4 linked regions of the Homo sapiens genome follow. The protein of the gene in region 3 purifies or fractionates together with the protein of the main gene of each other region. This does not show direct contact. Each region holds a gene or a part of one and is shown on either strand. Other genes may lie near its edges.

Region 1 (3,935 bases), on a different chromosome or scaffold from region 3:
ATGGGGTTTCACCGTGTTAGCCAGGATGGTCTCAATCTCCTGACCTTGTGATCCGCCCACCTTGGCCTCCCAAAGTGCTGGGATTACAGGCCTGAGCCACCTCGCCTGGCCTCAAACTGATTTTACGTGGTACAGTTGCTACCTTCTGCAGAAAGCCTTTCCTGACCTTCCTTACTTCCCCTACTCCAAATCTGGATAACTCTTGTTCCCACAGTAATCTGTGTAGTCATAAGACATAGCCCTGGTTTTTCCATGTTGTACAGTATGTATCTCTTTACTTCCCTAGTATATTGTGCACTTCCTGAGGGTGTTTCCTTAGCAAATTCCATCTTAAATAGATGAGGCAGAGCCATCCACAGCTTCACCTTTATCTGAAGTGGTAAAGTCCAAACTATATTTTCAATGTAAAATGTTCATTTAAGCCAGTCAAATCATTTTACTTTATATTAATATTTTCCATCTTGTTATACTAAAACAAAAACCCCAAACACAAAGGGAGCTCCTGAAATCTGCCTAGAGGAATTTTATTCTAATTAAACACACACACATACGTTTTTCTAAGTTCATTATAAAAGCAATGCTTTTGAACTTCCTAATAATGACTTTATTCACTATTTTACATTTGGCTCACTGCTAGAAGACAGTTACAAGCATAGAAAATGGACCCAAGGACAAACATTTACTTGGGAGGGAAATAACACAAAGAAGCATATCAATCGATGTCTTTGTCAGTCATTCTGTGACCAACCAGGAGCGGGGATGGCTTTGCTCTAGATTCTGGCAGCCAGTAGAAACCATCTCTAGAAACCATCTCATCTTTATCCATAATGGTAATAGAGCACAGTGTTCTCTAGACATGTAGATCTGCCACATGGCAAAGCTATATCATGATTTCTTCTTGCAGAGTGGGCAGTTTCAGCAGGACCTGTAAGTTTGCTTAGGTTTTCTGAAGATATCGGCATTAAAGACTTACACATTCCTTTTGTCCTCCTAACGTATTTCGTAACCACACTCTCAACATTCCAATAAGTTTTGAACTTGGAGGCACTTAGAACATAATTACATTTCTAATTTTGTTTCAGTTTGATATGTGTCCCTTCCTTCCTTTTTTTGGTAGAGACAGTGTCTCACTATGTTGACCAGGCTGGTCTTGAACACACCAGGCCTAAAGTGATCCTCCTGCCTCAGCCTTCCAAAATGCAAGGATTACAGGTGTGAGCCACTGTGCCTGGCCTATACTTCCTTTCTTAATCAACTTTGTTTTTATTTATTTATTTATTTATTTATTTATTTATTTATTTATTTATTGAGACAGGGTCTCGCTCTCTTGCCCTGGCTGGAGTACAGTAGTGCACTCTTGGCTCACTGTAGCCTCGACCTCCGGGGCTCAAGTGATCCTCCTGCCTTAGCCCCACAAGTAGTGGGACTATAGGCACACACCACCATGCCCATCTAAGTTTTTGTATTTTATGTAGAGACCAGGTTTCACCATGTTGCCCAGGCTGATCTTGACCTCCTGAGCTCAAGTGATCTGCCCACCTCGGACTCCCAAAATGCTGGGATTATAGGCGTAAACCACCATGCCTGGCCTTAAATCAACTTTAGAGTCAACATCTCTTATCACTGGAGCTTCTAGAGAAACTCCATCACGTGGTGCTCTCTTTCCTGATGTGTTGTGCCCAAATAGCTTGTTCTCATCAGATGACTTATTTGCTATGATATATATACTTCAAGAGCTGCTATATGTATTACATACATCAAATCTTTCTGTAAAGTTTGATTTTTGTTTCTTTAAAAGGAACATAAATGTTCCAGGACCAAGGGACACAAAGAGGTTTTAATTTTTAGTTCTGTAGCCTCATATATTTTAACAGAAATATAAAAACAGATAGTAGCAGTTTTCCAGTGGAGAAAACTTTCCAGATGTCTCCACTGTATCTCCTTTCTTTGCCTCTCCTTGAGAGAAGGCTGGAACTGATGGGTAAATTGGTTTTTTGCCCATCAGCCTATTCACATCTTTCCTTCCTTGTTCCCATCCTAGATTGTGGGGTTTTTTTTTGAAATCTGTTCCATTTCAGACATTTAAAGAACAGCCTTATCTAATCCTGCTCAAGCAAAATCTCAGAATCCTTAAATACAAAAGATCCTGTGTGGCCAGTCATATAGTTCATGGGAACTCTATGAACTTTGACCTAAGCTTTATCTCTGATTATATTTTGGCACTGCTGCCCCTTTACATTAACGCTGAAAAACAAAACAAAACTTAGCTAAGTTTTATGGCAAGTGGGGGCAGGGTCAGGTGAAGAGGTAGGAATTGCCTGAGGTTGGGGGTCCCTAAAACATAAAATAATCATCCAAAGCCCATTTTCCTCAAAGCTGGGGGTAATGGCCAAAGTATGTTCTCAAAGCATCATCTGCCCTGAGAAAGGGCAGCTACTCCTTCTACAGAGATCTCTGTGCACACTAATCTGTACTGTCTTCAGTACCTTGATGGCTGTTTGTGGTCATACACTCCGTGGACCAGTCTTGAGGGATCACAGGGCCAACCAGCTCAGCAAACCTCTCCAGAGGACAGCTGGGGCTGCAGCCAGGTAGCATGAGGGGATACGGCTCGTGCTGCGTCTCATTCCGATAGTACATCTCCACAAAGTACTCCCTGGCAGACAAAGGCAGAGGAGAGAGCTCTGTTAGTTCTGTGTTGTTGAACTGCCACTGAATTTCTTTCCACTTGGACTATTACATGCCAGTTGAGGGACTAATGGAAAAACTTATGGGGAGATTTTAGCCAATTTAGGTGTGTAAATGGGGAGACTGGGGCAGGCGGGAGAGATTTGCAGGGTGGAAATGGGAGGGCTGGTTTGTTAGATGAACAGGGACATAGGAGGTAGGCACCAGGATGCTAAATCAGAGGAGGTGGTGAGAAGTGATGGTTGCAGGGAGCTGGGTGGGACTTTGAGCCTTTGGATAAGAAGTGGGAGGCAGGTGGGGGTGTTGGGTTTTCCTTCTCCTCCTCCCTTCTTTTTAGGCTTCTCATTTGCTCCTTTTTTTCTTTTTCTGTTTTCCTACTTGAGTATTTCTTTCAGTCCTCTTTCTGAATGTATCTCCCCTCTCCTTAACTAGGCTATAAACATGGAACTGAATAATATATAACATATGTGCTTGAATATACAGCAAGACTTTATCAGAAAATTATCCCTCAGAACAAAGATGTGGGTATGTGTTCCAGTCCTTCCATTGTGTCACGTTAAGGAGAGCTCTCTCAATGCTTTATCTCAAAAAAACAATGTACTATTTGGGAAGGTCCAATGGTGTAAACTAACCTGAGTTAAACCAGCGTGAGTTGCTTATGGAAGCCATTTGCTAATCAAGGAGTCAGGAGGGGAACTCAAGAAGGATTTAGAGATCCTTCTTTTGGTGTAACCTTACAATGGCTACTTTTGGTTGTCATTATAAACAAGCCTTTTAAAACATCACTTTAAAAAGCCATATAAACATAGTAACAGCAAATATTCACTTATGTCTATAAGGCTGGGCGCAGTGGCTCACGCCTGTAATCCCAGCACTTTGGGAGGTCGAGGCGGGTGGATCACGAGGTCAGGAGATCGAGACCATCCTGGCTAACACGGTGAAACCCCGTCTCTACTAAAAATACAAAAATTAGCTGGGTGTGGTGGCACATGCCTATAGTCCCAGCTATTTGGGAGGCTGGGGCGGGAGAATCACTTGAACCTGGGAGGTGGAGGTTGCAGTTAGCCGAGATCACGCCACTACACTCTAGCCTGGGCAACAGAGCGAGACTCCATCTCAAAAATAAAATAAAATAAAATAAAAATAAAATAAAATAAAATAAAATAAGATAAAATAAAATAAGATGTCTATAAAACTTACAAAAACCTCCCTAATATGTATTATGAATGGGTACTTATATCTTGGAA
Region 2 (4,084 bases), on a different chromosome or scaffold from region 3:
AGCAACAAAAATCTCAGCTTCCTCGTGCTTCAGTGTGTTCATTAGGAGAACTACCAGGACAGGAATTGTAGGTCTCATCCACTTTCAGAGCGAGGCACAGGAGACAGAACCAGGGCATAGGGAAGGTGGGAAGGTGGAGGTAATACCATCCTACAACAACAAACAGGGGAGTGAAAACATCCTGGAAGGCTGGAACTAAAAGAATCGCACATCCTGTTGTCCAGTTGATATCATCCCACTGAAGGGAAAGCTGAGGAACAGAGTGGGTGAAGCTTCTTCAAGGTCATCCAGCTTGTTTAATGTGTGGACCAGAATATGGCTGAGTATGGTGTCCAGGAATAAGAGACATAGCTCAACCTTATACATGGTGGATTAATTTGGGATTGAGTTAGGGTTTGAACAACATAGGAACATGGAGCCTTAATAGGCACTTGAGGAAGGGAATGGTCAACCTTGCCTTCTGGTATTTGCCCTTCCCAGCTGTGGCCCTGGGACCACTGTGCCTATAGGCACTGACCTCTGACCTAGACTCTACCTCTCCACACCCTCTTCAGGCTGCCCTCATATGTGCCCTTCAGTAGCCAGGCCCTCCCAGCTTCAAACTTGAATACAAAGACCCAACAAGGATTAGGACATTGCACCTAGGGTTTGTGCAGGCAGGCCATGCTGCTGCAGACAGACGGGCAAAGTGACGTGATGCCCACATACATTGGCTTTCCTGGCAACCACTCACCTTCTAAATTGACATTTGGTCCTTGCAAGTATCCAGCAACTAGTTGGTTGTTCCTCAGATAGAAGGTCTTCTGGTTAACATCCCAGATTCTGAAAAGGAAAAGGACTCAGCTGTAGTGCACAGCCACCATGTGCCCAGCCTTGTGCTTGGCACCTTCCTGTGTCCCCCAGAACTTGTCAAATTTGCATCCAGCTCTTCCAGGGGTATAGTATTTTAGTATACCCACGGCATGCATGGATGAGAAGACTGAGGCTGACAATGGTTAAGAGGCAGGCCCAACCCTCACAGCTGGTGAGCAGTGAGCCCACATTTGACTCCCCTCCTTACTTGCTTCCCATCTGAGATTCCCAGGGAAGGCACTTCTGTTTCAGCAAAGCATGCTGTAGAGCAGCAACATCCAAAAGAACTTTCTGGGATGCAAAAATGTTCTGTAGCTGCACTGCCCAATAGGGTGGCCACTAACCACATGTGGCTATTGACCTCTTTAAATGTGGATAGTGTGACCAAGGGTCTGGATTTTAAATTTTCTTCTATTTTCATTCATTTAAGTATAAATTTAAATAGCCACCTGAGACTAGTGGCTACCATAGCACCTAGGTAGAAGTTTCAAGAGACGGAACACCTTGCAGCTAACTCGCTCTGAGTCTGAGACCAGAAGGGTCTTTCCCTAGAGCCTTTCCTCCATTAGCTGGTGACCTGCTCAGAGTCCTGCAGGAGCAGCTACCCTTGGGAACAACCCGGCTTCCTCTCTACCTCAGCCAGTGACCTGATTCTGGGTCCCAATCCTTTCTTCTTGGTAAAGGGCCTCTCTGGTTGAGAGCAGGACTCAAAGCTGTGAGACGTAATAAACAGAGCTCTGGCCAGCCTGACCTGGGACCTGTGCCTCACCTCTTCACCTGTGAAGTGTGGCTAACTGTACCCACCTCATCAGGTGGCTCTGAAGAGCCCACATGCTCGACGAGGGGTGGCCAGGCAAACCAAAGTGCTTTGCATATGGCAGCATTGGCCTGTTTGTGATTATCCTAGTTTCTAGATTTAGCCTCAGTCTGGAGGGATAAACATCACCTGCTGGGGCCTCCAGGAGGATCTCCTGGAGCTTCTAGCTGATCAGAGCAGGGAGAGGCAACCTAGGGAAGCAGACAGTCCCCATATCTGGAAGGGAGAGACTTGTCACTCATACACCCACAGAGCCCGACTTGCAGCCTCGGCCCAGACAAACATAAAGGTCAGAGTGGGGGAGAAGTCACCCCAACATGATTTCACTGCTGGAATGTCACACTGCAGAGGGCATGCACAAGCAGTCCTGTCATTTCTATCAGCATCACATCTTTACAATAGTGATGGTCTCACAAAGCCGATTCCATTTTCAAATCATAATGGTTTTCAGGCTCTTTACAATGCACGGAATACTGTTACGCTATTATCTGTGCATTTAATTTTCACAACAACCCTGTAAGGCACACAAGGAGTTATCGTGACTCTCATGTCACAGATGTCACAGACGGGGAAACCAAGGTCCCTGGAGAGTGGGACCCTCCGACATGTCAGCACAGACAGGCCTTGCCCATATCAGTCTGGGCCTTCGGGCTGTGCCCCTGGTGCCCCTCTCTGCTTCTCTGTCAGCACATTCAACTAGGCCTGAATCGCAGTCCCACTCCTTGGCATGCATCTATTACTCACTGGGTTCCTGAGTCTCTGGGAAAGTAAGACAGCCCTCCGGTCGCACTATCCACATCTGGGATATTTTGAAACACAAGTCCTGAAGCCCATGCATGTAACAGCCTCTTTCTTGAATAATGGACATCCTCTCCAGCCCAAACCCAGTTCTCAGGCCCTCTGGGGCCTGGCAGCCCCTGGCAGCTGTGATATGTTTCCAGTCTCCAGCTGATCCACCCTCACCTTCTCCTCCTTGGGGTAGCCTTACCTGAAGGCTTGCATCTTGCTGGATTTTCTCCCAGAGGGTCGGCAGATCGTCTCTGAATGGAACAGGAAGAGGAGGAGAGTGATTAGGTGACTGCGGAGGCCTCTGCAGATTTCCATTCTGTGACTGCAGCAAGGCAGTGGACTGCCATTGCGGGCCCAGAGTTGTGGTTTATAAAGAAATAGTCACTCACCCAAGCTAGGCGTCTGCCACCCTGCCCCACTGCGAGAAGCGGAAATACCCTCCTCGCATTTCCAAAAAGAGAAACCCTTGCTGTTGTCACTTTCAACCCCACTAAGTGTCGCAATGGAGTGTTGTAACTGATTCCCTCCCCTTTTTCCCCTGTGCAATTTCCCCAAAATTAAGATTTCTATTTCCCCTTCATTGAGTTCCTGGGAAGAAGAGCACAATGGAAACCAAACTCCCTACTGTTCCTGACAGGTACCCAGAGTCTGTTTGTTGACTTTTTAAAAAACAGATTTGAGCAGAAAGGCCGTTTTTTCATAATAAAATGATAGGGCTCCCTGCACATGGGACAGTCTCATGTCACTTTGTGTTCTTTGAAAAATGGACAGCCTTGGACTCCGGACCATAGATTGGCAAACATTCTGTAAAGGACGAGATAGTAAATATTTTAGGTTTTGTGCGCCACGATTACTCAGCTCAGCTGTCTGTTTCACAAAAGGACGTTGGCAATCCATAAATCAATAAGCCTAGCTGTGTTCCACTACAACTTTCTTTGCAAAAGCGGGGAATGGACCGGATTTGGCCTGAGTCTGCTGACCCCTGATGTAAAGTGAGTCCTTCTGAGAGGTGCTTTGAAATCAACTCTTTTCCCACTATCTTACATCTTTAAAGTTATGGTCTCGGGACGATGACATAAACTCAGCATTTGGACAGGAATGGGTCTAAATTCAACCTCTGCCACTTGCCTTGTGCCACCCGTGTGACCTTGAACAAATCATTTCATTAGTTGAGCCTCTGTCTCTTCACTCTCAGAATGAGGGTGATCATGTCTTCTTCACAAATGGATGGAAGGAAGGAAGGGAAAGAGGGAGGGAGGGAGGGAGGAAGCAGGTGTAGGAAGGAAGAGGAGAACTTCTGGCCCATAATGGGCTCTGATACACATTAACTTCCTTACTTACAATATTCTAGACCCGGGGCCTGGAACATTAGGAAAAAGGTAAGCATGCTCCTATTTTATGGGTAGGAAAAAGTTGAAGAGAATTTCTGCATGATCTACAGGATGGACAGTGCTGGTGCAGAAGCATACGTTGCAGTGTTTTAGAGCTGGACGGGAGCTTGGCAATCATCCTGTCCCAACCTGGCATTGTTTTCAAGAAGACTCAGAAAGATTTAGACAAAAAAGGGATCTGTCCAAGGTCACACAGCTTGCTGATGGCAAAAGTATGCAGAGAAATCCAGGTCTT
Region 3 (3,500 bases):
ACCTCAAGTGATCTGCCCACCTCAGTCTCCCAAAGTGCTGGGATTATACATAGGTTAATGGATTTTCTATGGTGTACTGTTTCCTATGCTTCATCTTCCATTCCTAATTTACTGGGGAGGCACCTATTCATTTTTAAGATTAGCTCAAACCACATGACCACTGGCCTTTCCTCCCTCTCCATCCCAACCAGTAGAAAAAAATCATTCCACCTTTATGTGCCCATGACATGCCTCTGAAACTTTTACCCTAGCACTGCTATTTTACGGCATTTATTCATTTACATGTTTTTCTTTCCCACCATAATGAGTGTCTTGAGGGCAGGACCATCTCTTATTAAGCACCTAGTATACATTTAATAAATGTTTATTGAGTAAGTCAGTATAAAACAATGACCGCCAAATTATGTGAGCAATCATCAGAATATCTGATTTCTAAAAAGACGCAACAAAAATTTTTTATTGTAAATTGACAATTTATAATTGTATAAATGTATGGGTTACAAAGTGATATCATAAATTGTGGATACAATATGGAATAGTTAAATCAAGCTAGTTAACATATGCAATACTTCAAATACATTTCTGTGATGAGAACATCAATTTTGAAATGTATAATACCCCATTATTAAGTATAGGCACCACACTGTACAACAGAACTCAAAAAAAGCATAAAACATATTCTTCCTGTCTGAGATTTTATACCCTTTGACCATCATTAATTTTTTTTTTTTTTTGAGACAGTCTCACTCTGTCACCCAGGCTGGAATGCAGTGGCGCAATCTCAGCTCACTGCAACCTCCACCTCCTGGGTTCAAGAGGTTCTCCTGCCTCAGCCTCCCCAGTGGCTGGGATTACAGGCACGTGACACCATACCCAGCTAATTTTTTTTGTATTTTTAGTAGAGGTGGGGTTTTGCCATGTTGTCCAGGCTCATCTCCAACTCCTGACCTCAGGTGATCCACCCACCTTGGCCTCCCAAAGTGCTGGGATTACAGGAATGAGCCACCATGCCTGGCCTAGTTTTTATGAGACAAAATATCAATTTCAAAACAGCATCAGTGGCAAAACAGCATCAGTGGCTGGACGTGGTGGCACGCACCTATAGTCCCAGCTACTCCGCAGGCTGAGGCAGGAGAATCGCTTGAACCTGGGAGGCGGAGGTTGCAATGAGCCGAGATTGCGCCACTGCACTCCAGCCTGGTGACAGAGCGAGACTCCGTCTCAAAACAAACAAATAAACAAACAAACAACAAAAAAGCAGCATCAGAAAGTGAGCAGGCCAGGCACAGTGGCTCATGTCTGTAATTCCAGCACTTTGGGAGGCCGAGGCATACTTTTCTGTATTAAAAATACAAAAGTATTTGTCTCTACTAAAAATATCCACCCCCCCCGCCCAAAAAAGAAAAATTAGTTGAGCATGGTGGTGTGTACCTGTAATCCCAGCTACTCGGGAGGCTGAGGCAGGAGAATCACTTGAAGGATGGGAGGCAGGGGTTGCAGTGAGCCCAGATCACGCCACTGCACTCCAGCCTGGTGACAGAGCAAAACTTCATCTCAAGAAAAAAAAAAAAAAGAGTGAGCATATTGAACTACCCTCAGCTCATAGTAAGGCAAATAGGTCAACAGAATAATAATTCATGCTATTGCATTGGAAAAGCAATTAAAAGAAATTTAAAAATGTGTAAGCAGAAATTCAGTTGCATGTAAGAAAATCCAATTCCCCGTGAGAAAGAGAAAGAGCTGGAGTCCTTTAAAAATTAACTGCCTGTTTTTCTGTGGCTAGTGAGCCTTATCTCTCCTCCTTTCCCAGGCATTGTAAATACCCTGTTTCTCTAGCTGTGCAGCTGCAAGGTAACTAGACAGATAAACTCAAGTCGTAAAACATGATTTTCCTTGAAAAGTAAGAAATGATGTAATGCATGTCTCAGTTAATTGAATAACTGTCTTTCTTGCTTCTGTAATATGCTTCCCCCTGCACAGATTCCCCCCAACCCCCGCGGCCCCACAAAATGCTTAAAAGGTAACTTAACTCTGTTCAGGGTTCAGTCCTTTGGATGTTAATCTGACTGGGCTGGTGCACCTAAATAATAAATATCTCCCTGAACTCCATCAGTCTCTCTGATTCCTTAAAAATCCCGCTACATTTTGTGTAATGAACTGGCAACAAGAGAAAGTTGGTCGAAGAAAGGCAGAGGAACTGTGTCTTGTAAGAATTAGAATCGAGGGGCTCCATAATCATCTGGCATCCGTTCAATGTTGTATCTGATCAGGACAAAAAATCAACACCGGTAAGAAAGATGGGAAGAGAACCCATCTAAAAACCCATCCTTTATAGACTGCAATACTCTCACCCCCACTGTGAATCCTTTTTGTCAGTGGAAACAATTTAGGGGAACATCATAATGAATGATTTACAGCAAAATGCTGACTATAATACAATATGATTGTTTTTTCAAAGTCACAAAGTCAGCAAGAGGGGAACTGAGGAGCTGAGATCAGTAAGTCCAACTTCTTAGTCCACAGACTTCCCACCACATTGTGCTCTCCTCAAGCTGAAAAGCTGGAAAATAAGTCTGAGTACTGACAAAAAATAGCCAAGAAGGATAACAGCTTTTTTTTTTTTTAAATAAGCTTTCCATTTCTCAGATGAAGTGTTAATAAAAAAAAATCTTTCAAAACAGGTATTTCTGGCCAAAAAGATTAGCTTGATTTAAATTACTGCTTTTATTTAAAACAATACGTCTATTTCTTCCAGTAATCTTACTCTAACAATTTAAATGTTTGCCTCATTCCTTAAATCCTATCTCTCTCTTTTGCTCTTGCTCTTGCTTTGTCTCATTTCTTCAAATATAACTATGTAAACATTTGATACAATAATTTCTTTCAAATCCTTTATAACCTTATCACTTATCCTCATTTTCAATTGATATCAATTATATATTTCTATTCCCTTCTCCAAGGGAAATTTCTCACCTATGGTTAGAAATGTACATGATAGGAACTCCAGGAATCTTACGGATTCTTCTTTTCAGGTCCCGGTCAACTGTGGCCACAATGTAACACTTATGCTGTAAGAGACATGGAGTGATGTTCACACTGAGGTCACTGAGCACGCTTAGTGAATACTGGATAATGGCACAACGACTGACCAGTCTGAGAATCGTTCATTTTCACAGTAAGTAGCGAAGGGCAGGCTATAACAATTTGTTGAGTACCTACTATGATCTAGGAGCTCCTAATCTTGTTATATAAAATAAACAAGTTGCCTGGGCTGAATGCAGCATTTAGAATCTTGAGGAGGAGAAGGTAGAAAACTTTTCACAAGCTGCAAACTGTTTTCTGCTCATAAATGAAAGGGACTTTCACACTTGGGGCAGACAATTCTTTAGTTTTGGGAAAATGCTCCGAGGAACTCCATGGAGATAAAAAGTGCCTTAATTTGGAGGCCATAGCTCCCTCCTTTCCCTAGATCTTGGGGCTTGGGTGTGCTCTGGGCCTAC
Region 4 (3,500 bases), on a different chromosome or scaffold from region 3:
ACAGAATGACACGCTGTCTCAAAATAAATAAATAAATAAATAAATAAACAAATAGTCTTATTTATCTTTCTGAATTCAACAATTGTGCATTGAAGTCCTACTATTGCATTAGACTGGTGATGAGAAGAACTGTGCACATTCTCCTTATAACTGTGCCGCTTATTAGTTATATGACTTTGAGCTTAAACTTTTATTGTCTATAAAATGGAGATAATACTATCTTTCCTAAAGTTTGGGCATAGTGGCTCAGGCCTGTAATCCCAGTACTTTGGGATGCCAAGCCAGGCCAATCACCTGAGGTCAGGAGTTTGAGACCAGCCTGGCCAACATGGTGACACCTTGTCTCTACTAAAAATACAAAAATTAGGTGAGCGTGGTGGCGCGTGCCTATAATCGCAGCTACTCAGGAGGCTGAGGCATGACAATCACTTGAACTCAGGAGTGGGAGGTTGCAGTGACCCAAGATCGCGCCACTGCATTCCAGCCTGGGCAACAGAGTGAGACTCCATCTCAAAAAATATCTGTCCTGGAGAATAACAAAGATGATTAACAGCAGGGTAGACACTGGGGGAGTACAGAAGAGCAAACATGATGGGAAAACAGCCCTTTTTTTTTTCTTCTATGTACTTCCTAGAGTTCCCACATTTAAACAAAAACATGCAGGAGAAAATATTATTTAAAAATAGTAATACTGCCCCTACCTCAGTCATAAGGCCACTGTCACTCAAATAATCTAAGGCATAGACAAGCACCTCGTGGGGCCCTCACAAATGTGAGGAGTTGTTCTGTTTGCATTGACCCACAGGGGTGGAGATGGGGACAGAGCACCCAAATAGTACAAGTCTGCCAAAGTTCATGACATAAATGGGAGAAGGGCCACACCACACACCCACCAGGCCCTCATCTGCATCCTCACCCCAGGACAGGGGGATTCATGCTTCATTGAGAGCCCTGAGGACTCCAGGGAAAATGATGCTTCAAAGTCAGACTGCCCTGATAAGGTATGAAAACTTGAAAATGGAGAGGAAGCCAAAGCTGCCCTGACTTTGAGAATGGTCCAGGCAGGCAAGGAATTCACCCGCTTGGGGCCAGGACCCTTGTGGGTGGTTGGTGAGAATGGGGCAGCATCACTTCAGTCCCCTTCACCCCAGACTCCGAGAAACTCCATTTTCTGTTTCCTGGAAAGAAAACTGATGCAGGGGAAAAGCCAAACTATATTTTGGGATCTCAACAAGAGCCACACTAACTCAAAGCCAGACTGTCCATAAAGCAGTAATGTCTTAGGAAGCCACACCCTGACCTCTGACCGTAGAGCTGGCACAGAGGCCACCAGCAGCAGGGCTGAGGGTCGAAGGAATCGTTCAGGATGCCCAGGAGGCTCTCTCTGCCCCCTCGGCGCCAGGGAAAGCTTTGTGGGCTGAGGATGTGGAGCAAGCTGACATGGTGAGATGGGCTGGGGACTGGGTTCTGAGAGGTGGGGAGGGCTTGCACAGGCAGTGGGGTGGGAGAAGTTACCCCAGACATGGGGAATGGTATGAGGCACTTGCTTTCATTGTTTTCTCAAATAGATATTAGCTGCCATTCAGTGCTGGGCACCCTGCTAGGCATGGAGTAGGATGGGAGACGGAAGGACCCATCCAGCTTTGTCACTCTCCTTCACAGTGAGGAAGGACATAGGCTTTGGAGCTGGGCACCTGGGAAAATGTTTTTGTTATTGGGAGAATTAAGCAGGACAAAATCTATAAAGTATCAGGCCTGGTCCTAGGGGTTACAAGCCAGGGGCCTGTTTGGTCAGTCACAGCAACTGGCTGAGTTTGTACCCAGCGATGCTCTAGGACTACTCCTAAATATCTCTTCTGTCTGTCACATAGCCACCCCCCACCACCAGAACCATCAGGACTTACAACTTCATGTCTTTATCGTTCCTTCACTGGGTTTCTGCAGTAGTCCCCCAGGTGGACTTTTTATCCTTCCCACGGTGACACAAATCTGATCCTTCATTTCAGAGCCATTTACAAGGCTCTCTAATGCCTTTAGGATAAGAGCCATGCTCCCTACTATAGCAATCAAAGCATTTCATGATCTGACTCCTAATCTCTCCCCTCCTCAATCATCACCCACAGCACTCCTGCCAGACTATAATGGCAATGGCAAAGGTTTGTTCAGCTCTTACTGTAGCAGAGCTGAGTACTTTGCATTTCTGTTTAATTCTCCTAACAATCCATGAGAGAGGAATTGTACTTTATAAATGGATAAACAAGTTTGGAGAGCTATACAACATGATTAGAGGGACTGCTGGAATACAAGCCTGAATCTGCACTGCCTCCAAAAGCATACAATGCTATGTCAGGTCACTAAAACGTTGCTCACACCCTTCCTCTTGTGTGAAACATCCGCCATCTCTTTCCCTTTTGGTGTACTCCTATTCATCCTTCAAAACTCACTAAGGCATTAACTGTCACCTCTGTAAGGCTTCTGTGACAGCAGAATGAAGTCTGCATTGCTGCTTTGTTTTGTATGCATGTCCATTATAGCAAGATTCTTCATGTGGTGGTGTATTTGCTTTCACATCTTCCCTGCTAGTTTCCTGGAGAGTGTCTCATCTCTGAATCCCAATAAACACTGGGCAACTGAAGCAAAAATTCTAGTATAACCACTTGGGAAAACGTTTATCTAAATGTAGTTGACCACTGCCTGAAAATTTTCCTCTGAAATTATGGTGTGGACTACAGGTGAATTGGCCTAAGATATTTTATAAACCCAATCCTTACTATTCTTTAGTACAATACTAGCTTTTGGACAAGGTTTTCGGAGGAGTTTGCCTTTATACATATTCTTTCATGGACCACACTAAAGATGCTACAAGCTCTCTTCACCCTGAGTGCTTACTTAGAAAATGACTTTGTGAGGTTTCCAGACACTGGCTGAACCCATTTCACCCCAGCCTCCAAGCAGCTCCACAAATAATTTGAACTACTCTTTGCTAAGAATGATCACACAGAGGATAAATATTCTTCCCCACACATGCTAACATCTTCTCTCCTTGTTCCCAACAGCTGCAGATTTCCCTCTGGGGACCTATGCCTCCCCCACACTGTGTCCATTGGTCTGGGCAGAGCACACAGCCCAGCCTGAGCCAATCACACCTTCACATTCCCCTGGGCGCAGTGATTGGTTTAGGGTTGGGTGCATCTTGTGGTCCCCCATGACGCGGTCACCATAAGGTCCTCCAAGTCGGAGTGTACATTAGGACTTTTGGGAGAGGTACTGGAAATAACTCTCCTATTTTCCCAGCAGACCTCACCCTAGGTGGAGGTGAAGAGAGGCTGCAGCAATGTGGCTCCCACAGGGGAGAGAGCTTAGAGACTGGAGTCAGTGCAAAAGAAGCAGAGCCAAGAAATGGGTGGAACCAGGTCCTAGCAACATCATTTGCAGTCTGGGTCAGGTTGTACCTGAAGCTTATCTTGCTCAACTTTTTAGTCAGGTGAGGCAAGAAATTC

Evidence for each region.
Region 1: the proteins of FCF1 (region 3) and ACP3 purify together in Homo sapiens (affinity purification with mass spectrometry; 2 studies listed by BioGRID and IntAct, with this or other methods). This does not show direct contact.
Region 2: the proteins of FCF1 (region 3) and IL1RN purify together in Homo sapiens (affinity purification with mass spectrometry; 2 studies listed by BioGRID and IntAct, with this or other methods). This does not show direct contact.
Region 4: the proteins of FCF1 (region 3) and SDR9C7 purify together in Homo sapiens (affinity purification with mass spectrometry; 2 studies listed by BioGRID and IntAct, with this or other methods). This does not show direct contact.

The regions. Positions count from the first base shown.
Region 1 is NC_000003.12:132,355,407-132,359,341, reverse strand, and holds the end of ACP3 (prostatic acid phosphatase isoform PAP precursor), read right to left. Parts: intron 2,657-3,935; coding exon 2,464-2,656; 3' UTR 501-2,463; downstream 1-500. UniProt on the Homo sapiens protein: A non-specific tyrosine phosphatase that dephosphorylates a diverse number of substrates under acidic conditions (pH 4-6) including alkyl, aryl, and acyl orthophosphate monoesters and phosphorylated proteins.
Region 2 is NC_000002.12:113,126,314-113,130,397, reverse strand, and holds the start of IL1RN (interleukin-1 receptor antagonist protein isoform 1 precursor), read right to left. Parts: upstream 2,801-4,084; 5' UTR 2,774-2,800; coding exon 2,658-2,773; intron 823-2,657; coding exon 734-822; intron 1-733. UniProt on the Homo sapiens protein: Anti-inflammatory antagonist of interleukin-1 family of proinflammatory cytokines such as interleukin-1beta/IL1B and interleukin-1alpha/IL1A.
Region 3 is NC_000014.9:74,733,644-74,737,143, reverse strand, and holds part of FCF1 (rRNA-processing protein FCF1 homolog), read right to left. Parts: intron 3,069-3,500; coding exon 2,974-3,068; intron 2,263-2,973; coding exon 2,214-2,262; 3' UTR 1-2,213. UniProt on the Homo sapiens protein: Part of the small subunit (SSU) processome, first precursor of the small eukaryotic ribosomal subunit.
Region 4 is NC_000012.12:56,924,409-56,927,908, forward strand, and holds part of SDR9C7 (short-chain dehydrogenase/reductase family 9C member 7), read right to left. Parts: intron 1-3,500. UniProt on the Homo sapiens protein: Plays a crucial role in the formation of the epidermal permeability barrier.